Linked DNA regions of Homo sapiens. The protein of the gene in region 1 purifies or fractionates together with the protein of each later gene. This does not show direct contact. Each region holds a gene or a part of one and is shown in the gene's direction. Other genes may lie near its edges.

Region 1 (3,813 bases):
TTTTTTTGTATTTTTAGTAGAGGCAGGGTTTCGCCCTGTTGGTCAGGCTGGTCTCGAACTCCTGATCTTAGGGGATCCACCTGTCTTGGACCTCCCTAAGTGCTAGGATTACAAGCGTAAGCCACCGCGCCAACCTGTTTTTTTTTTTTTTTTTTTTGATGTAGTCTCGCTCTGTCTTCCAGGCTGGAGTGCAGTGGCATGATCTCGGCTTACTGCAACTTCTGCCTCCCGGGTTCCAGTGATTCTCCCACCTCAGCCTCCTGAGTAGGGGATTACAGGCGCGCACCACCACGCCCAGCTAATTTTTTGTATTTTTAGTAGAGACGGGGTTTCACCACGTTGGCCAGGCTGGTCTCGAACTCCTGACCTCAAGTGATTTGCCTGCCTTGGCCTCCCAAAGTGCTGGCATTACAGGTGTGAGCCACCGCATCCGGCACTTGTACCACTTTTCTGAAACCATTCTGACATAGACATTGGTGATGTCTCGAGACCAGCTCCTAAATCCGCAGCACACTCTCCAACCCCAGTGTTACCTGGCCCTGTTATTTTTAACACTGGAAACTGTCCCCACATTCTTGAATCCCCCCAATCTTGGCCTTCAGGGCCCACCTTCTCCTGGCCTTCTTCCTGCTCCCAGAGTGCCTTCCAGACTTCTGGGGCTTTGCTCCCTGGCTCAGTGCTGGCCTACACCCCCAGCACCCTTGAAAACTGATGATCTCAATCTCTCTCCATCTAGTGCTTTTTTTTTTTTTTTTTTTTTTTTTAAGGAAAGAGTCTCGCTCTGTCACCCAGGCTGGAGTGCAGTGGTGCAATTACAGCTCACTGCAACCTCTGCCTCCTGGGTTCAAGGGGGTTCTCGTGCCTCAGCCTCCCAAGTAGCTGGGATTACAGGAATGCATACCGCACCCAGCTAATTTTTGTATTTTTAGTAGAGATGGGGTTCCACCAATTTGGCCAGGATGGTCTTGAACTCTTGGCCTCAAGTAATCTGCCCACCTTGACCTCCCAAAGTGCTGGGATTACAGGCATGAGCCACCTTGCTTGGCCTCCATTTAGTGCTTGAGAGGTATCTTCCTCTGGTGTTTCCCAAAGCAACTATTTTCCCCAAGCAGTCTCCCCCTATCATGTTAACAGTGTCACACGCACGCTGGTGCCCAGTCCAGCATTATCCCTTGTCCCCACCACCTGACCTCATCTGTATGAAATTTTGCCAGTTCTTTCCCAAACCCTGCCCAGGCCTTCCTACTGGTTCCAAGCCTCAGGCCTTTCAGGCTTCATCCTCCCAGTCCCCAGCTGCTCCCCACATTGCACCCAGAGGTGGCAAGAGAAGGGTCCATACTTAAGGTAGGAGGGGGTTGCAGGGCTGAGGCATAGGGGGCTGGAGTATGCTGGGGAGTAGAGGCAGAGCAGGGACTAGAGTGAGGCCAGAGAGGGACCCAAGGCACAAAGGGAAGGAGGCTGTCACCCTCAGGGCTGTGTACTTGCTGTTTGTGCCCTTCATTTGTGCCCTACGTGGCTCTCTGTCCTCATCCTAGTCCTGGCCCTTGCTTATGGGGACAGACGGGTCCAAGGGAGGAGGGTGGCGAAGTGCTCTTCTCCACACCTGTGGGGACAGATGCTGAGAATGGAATTCTACAGAGACAGTGGACAGGCTTGGTAGTGAACTTTCCAACAACCTAGAGCTCTCATTCCTGGTGTGGGGGCCAGAAGACTCCCGAAGGACAACAGTTTTGTCAGGTGCCCTTGGTCTGGGCCAGGGACTCAGCATTAGAACTGGGCATCTGGGTAGAAGACGGTCTGTGGGGCCATAGGGTGCCACGTGGGCCCCTTAACTTGATAGGGAAGGAGGGCTCCCTGCCTGGTTTATGCAGGGTGTAGTGGGAAAAGGCCTGAAGGGCGCCCTCTCCCATTTCCCACACACTTATTTGAGGGTCTAACCCGAGGCAGACACTGCCTGGTGCTCCTGCCCGGCTGCATTATGCAGATCTCTGGGGCAGGTGTTCCCAGGTGCGAACTTGAGACAAAGGAACGAGGAAGCACGGCCTCCCTGAGCACAGGTAACCCGAGGCCTGGCTCCCCCTGCGCTTGTGGGCCGGCCTTGGGGGAGGGGGACGCGCACCCACAGAAGGACTCAGAGGGCTTCACGGTAAGCTGAGCAGGGTCAAGGTCCACAGGGAGCGGGAGAGGGTAGTAATCCGGGAAGTCTTCCTGGTGGCAGTGAATTCTTTGCGGGGTTCGGCAGGCGCAGGATCCTTGGGGCCGCGCACCCTGCAGCGGCCCCTCCCCTCCCCTCCCCCCTCCCACCTGTGGGAAACGCAGGCCCTGAGAGAGGCTCCGTCAGTGCCAGCAGCTGGCGCCACTGCGTCCCCTGCCCCGGCCTCAGCCAGCCCTGGGACCTCTGCGGAGGACTGATCCCGGGAAGGGGGCCCTGTCTTCCCAGGGCCCCGGTGCGGCCGAGCTGGGAAGACCTTGGGGAGGGCAGGCCTGCCACCTACTGCAGCCGCGGCCCCCGTCCATCCGGGAGGGACAGGCTGTGCCCTTGGCGGCGCCCACCCGCGACCCAGATGTGCGTCGCCTACCCACCCTCCCCCAGACCCCCGTTTCCTCAGGCGCTCGCCGCCTCGGGGCGCCTGGCACGCGGCAGCCCCGCAAGGTAGGTCCTTCATTCCTCCCATTTCGCAGAGGAGAAAACTGCAGTCCGGGATGGCTCAGTCGGCCCCTCCAAAGTCGCGCAGCTGGTTCGGGCCGAGCCCCGACTGCGAGAGTGAGGCACATGGCCCCTGCAGACCGGGCCTCGGAGGGTCCCAGGCTTGAGGACCCGTCGGCCCCTCAACCCCTTGGAAAGGCAAGGAGAGAAGCCTGCGCTGGTAGTGAGCTTCCACTTCTGCCCTGACTGCAACACTTAGGTTAGGGGGCTGGGAAGGACCCCCACCCTCAATTTTTGGATAGGGGTGTATTTCTCTCCCTCCCCTAATTTCTGAGGTTGGTTCCCTGTTGGATTCAGGTACTGCTCTCCCCTTCCAACCCCATTTCCCCAGCCCATGAGGTTGGGATATTAGGGTCCCAGACCCAAGATAAAGAACCCCAAAATTCTGGGGTTGCAGCAAAGAGTTGAGAGGGTCACTGAGCCTGGGAAGCTCATGGCGGAGGTGGGGCTAAGGCAGAAGTTTAGGAATGGAACGCTGAGCTGAGCTGAGCTGAGCTGAGCTGAGCAACGCTGGGGGCTATGTGCATGGAGCCCTGGGGGTTGGGCTTTATCAGGTGGGCAACAGGCAGCCCCCATTCCCAAGTTCTCTCTTTTATCCCAGCCTTATTCCTTCACCTTGGATGCCTGGGAACTTTTTGTACCCATTGTAGGGAAGGGGACACTGAGGGGCAGAGCGGTGCCGGGTTGACTTGGCTGGGGTGGTGGGAATAGGAGTAGGGTCTTACCTATCTCTGCCTTCCCACCTGTGCCCACAGTGCCCCCCTGGCTTAGTCATGGCGAAGCTGGAGACGCTGCCTGTGCGCGCTGACCCAGGGCGGGATCCTCTCCTGGCCTTTGCCCCACGGCCCTCCGAGCTTGGACCCCCGGACCCCCGCCTGGCCATGGGCAGCGTGGGCAGTGGGGTGGCCCATGCCCAGGAGTTTGCCATGAAGAGCGTGGGTACCCGCACAGGGGGTGGGGGCAGCCAGGGCAGTTTCCCTGGCCCCCGAGGCAGTGGCAGTGGGGCCAGCAGGGAGAGGCCGGGCCGCTACCCCTCAGAGGACAAGGGTCTCGCCAACTCCCTCTACCTCAATGGTGAGCTGCGGGGCAGTGACCACACCGATGTC
Region 2 (2,644 bases), on another chromosome or scaffold:
ACCTGCAGAAGGTAAGGCCGGGGGCCACGCCCTCTCCATCCCACTTCCCAGACACTGGGCAGGGCAGTCAGCAGGGATCAGGCACCTGCCCCCGCCATGCAGGACCCACCCCACCCCCACACCTCCTGTGTTTGAGTGTAGTCATGGGTGAAGAGTAAACAGTGATAACACCCCAGGCTACCAAGCGCTCAGAGAAACTCATCCATTCTTGGGGGGAGAATAATCAGCCCAGGCTTTTCGGAAGGCAATTGGATAACATTTATCAAAAAAACACAAAAAAACTGTGGCTGGGCGCGGTGGCTCATACCTGTAATCCCAGCACTTTGGGAGGCCAAGGTGGTGGGTCACCTGAGGTCAGGAGTTCGAGACCAGCCTGGTCAACATGGTGAAACCCCATCTCTATTAAAAAGTACAATAATTAGTCGGGTGTGGTGGCGGGTGCCTGTAATCCCAGGTACTCAGGATGCTGAGGCAAGAGAATCGCTTGAACCCAGGAAGGTGGAGGTTGCAGTGAGCCGAGATCATGCCACTGGGCTCCAGCCTGGGCAACAGAGCGAGACTCCATCTCAAAAAAAAAGAAAAAAAAATGTTGATCCAGTAATTCCACTTGTGGGAATTTATCCGTGACAGCATGGGTACAAAGAGATTGTGAACAAGGACGTTCGTTGCCACACTATTGGCAATAAAAAATTGGAGCCAGCGTGGCTGTCACTCAACATGAGAATGGCTGTGTAAATTATAGGGTGTCCATGCAGCGGAACAGCTTGCAGCCAATTAAAGTAATAACAAATCTATATATTTACTAACACGCAAAAGAAGTCCAGTAACTTACATAAAAACCAAAGCGAGCTGCAGCAGTGTTGTCTAGAATATCACCATACTTATTTATTTATTGTTTAACCACCATGGTTGAGAGGGCCATCTAGAAGGTGACAGTCAATTTGTTCTTTGGACTTGTCTCCATGGGGCGGAAGGATGAGGAGGAGACTGGCTGGGTACGTTGGCTCACACCTGTAATCCCAGCACTTTGGGAGGCCGAGGTGGGTGAGGTCAGGAGTTCAAGACCAGCCTGGCCAATATGGTGAAACCCCGTCTCTACTAAAATACAAAATTAGCCGGGTGTGGTGGTGCACGCCTGTAATCCCAGCTACTTGGGAAGCTGGGGAGGAGAATTGCTTGAACCCAGGAGGCGGAGATTGCAGTGAGCCGAGATCATGCCTCTGCACTCCAGCTTGGGCGACAAGAGCAAAACCCAGTCTCAAAAAAAAAAAAAAAAAAATGAGGAGGAGACTTTTATCTATTGTTTCTATACTTCTGGGTAAAAGCCAGAAAGGTGGCAGAGTATATAATGCGTAAGTCTTCGAGCCGTGGAATCAAAGGGGCCCAGGTTCTGACCCCCGCCCCACTGCATAATGCTGCGCAACCTGAAACAGGTCCCTGCCTTTCGGGGGCTACGTCCTCCTGGAAGAAGGGGGTCTGCTCAGGCCACCCTGCATCCATGTCCCAGCTCCCCACTTGCTGTGTGAGGCTGGGGTCCTCTTCCAGGAAACTAGGGACAGCGACAGTCCCCAAGTCCTCGGGTAGTGTGAAGGTGGGATGCGGTGACAATAGTGATGTTTGTCAAGCGATGACTCCACATGTGGTTGCGTTCCGGGAGCTCTACATAGATGAGCTCCAGACACCCCTCAGCCTCCTGGTAGAGTTGCGGGAACCAAGTGACTTGCCCAGGGTCCCTCGGTTGTGGAGAGGCAGAGTGGGATGTGTGCCCCGGCCTGGCCTGGCTCTAGTGGTTGGCTCCAAAGCACAGCCGGGCCAGGGCTCACAGGCCTCAGGGAGCCATCGGCTGTTCCAGGAGCGGCCAAGCCCACCCGCCTGATGCCAGCTTCCCACCCTGTGCAGGAGAAGCAGGACAAGGTGGTGCTCCAGTCAGAGGTGGCCAGCCTGCGGCAGAACAACCAGCGGCTGCAGGAGGAGTCGCAGGCCGCCAGCGAGCAGCTGCGCAAGTTTGCGGAGATCTTCTGCAGGGAGAAGAAGGAGCTCTGAGGTGGGAGGCCGCCGCCCGCCTTCGCTCCTTCCCCTCAGGCCGTGGCCCTGCTGCCTCTCTCCCTCCACTCAGCTCCCAGCTGCCGGTGTGACCAAGATGACCCATCCAGGGCCCTCCCCATGGACACGGAAACTCCGATGGCCTCACTAGGGCTGTGAGTCAGGGTCAGCGCGCACAGCCCTCATGCCCCAGAGGGCGAAGTGGTCTCAGGCCTCCCTCCAAGCTGCCCAGCTGTGGTCCCGGTGAGCTGGGCTGTGCTTACACCGCTCCCGGGCCTGCCCCGCTGTCCCCATCTAGCCTCTTCCTGGGACCAGCCCTTCGAAGCTGATGGGGACGGAGAGAGGAGCCAGTCTCCAGACGCCTCGGCTCCAGGAGGTCACACAGCAGGTTTCTGCACCACGCACAACAAAGTTGCGGCTTGTGGGGCCGAGGCCCCTGCATGAAAAGTACAGCGTGAAAGCAACCCTTTCTTCCCCACACCCAGAGAGGTGAGGCCCGCGTGGACACAGACCAGGGCGCCTCGGTCCCTAGCACGTGAGCTCCAAAAAGCACGAACATGATCCCCTCCCTAACCCCCTCCTCCCAAAAAGCAGCCAGGAG

Evidence for each region.
Region 2: the proteins of LZTS3 (region 1) and SIPA1L3 purify together in Homo sapiens (affinity purification with mass spectrometry; one large-scale study listed by BioGRID and IntAct). This does not show direct contact.

The regions. Positions count from the first base shown.
Region 1 is NC_000020.11:3,166,831-3,170,643, reverse strand, and holds part of LZTS3 (leucine zipper putative tumor suppressor 3), read left to right. Parts: exon of another isoform or gene 1-2,146; intron 2,147-2,339; exon of another isoform or gene 2,340-2,653; intron 2,654-2,682; 5' UTR 2,683-2,773; coding exon of another isoform or gene 2,774-2,845; 5' UTR 2,846-2,906; intron 2,907-3,462; coding exon of another isoform or gene 3,463-3,480; coding exon 3,481-3,813. UniProt on the Homo sapiens protein: May be involved in promoting the maturation of dendritic spines, probably via regulating SIPA1L1 levels at the postsynaptic density of synapses.
Region 2 is NC_000019.10:38,204,198-38,206,841, forward strand, and holds part of SIPA1L3 (signal-induced proliferation-associated 1-like protein 3), read left to right. Parts: coding exon 1-11; intron 12-1,899; coding exon 1,900-2,043; 3' UTR 2,044-2,644. UniProt on the Homo sapiens protein: Plays a critical role in epithelial cell morphogenesis, polarity, adhesion and cytoskeletal organization in the lens.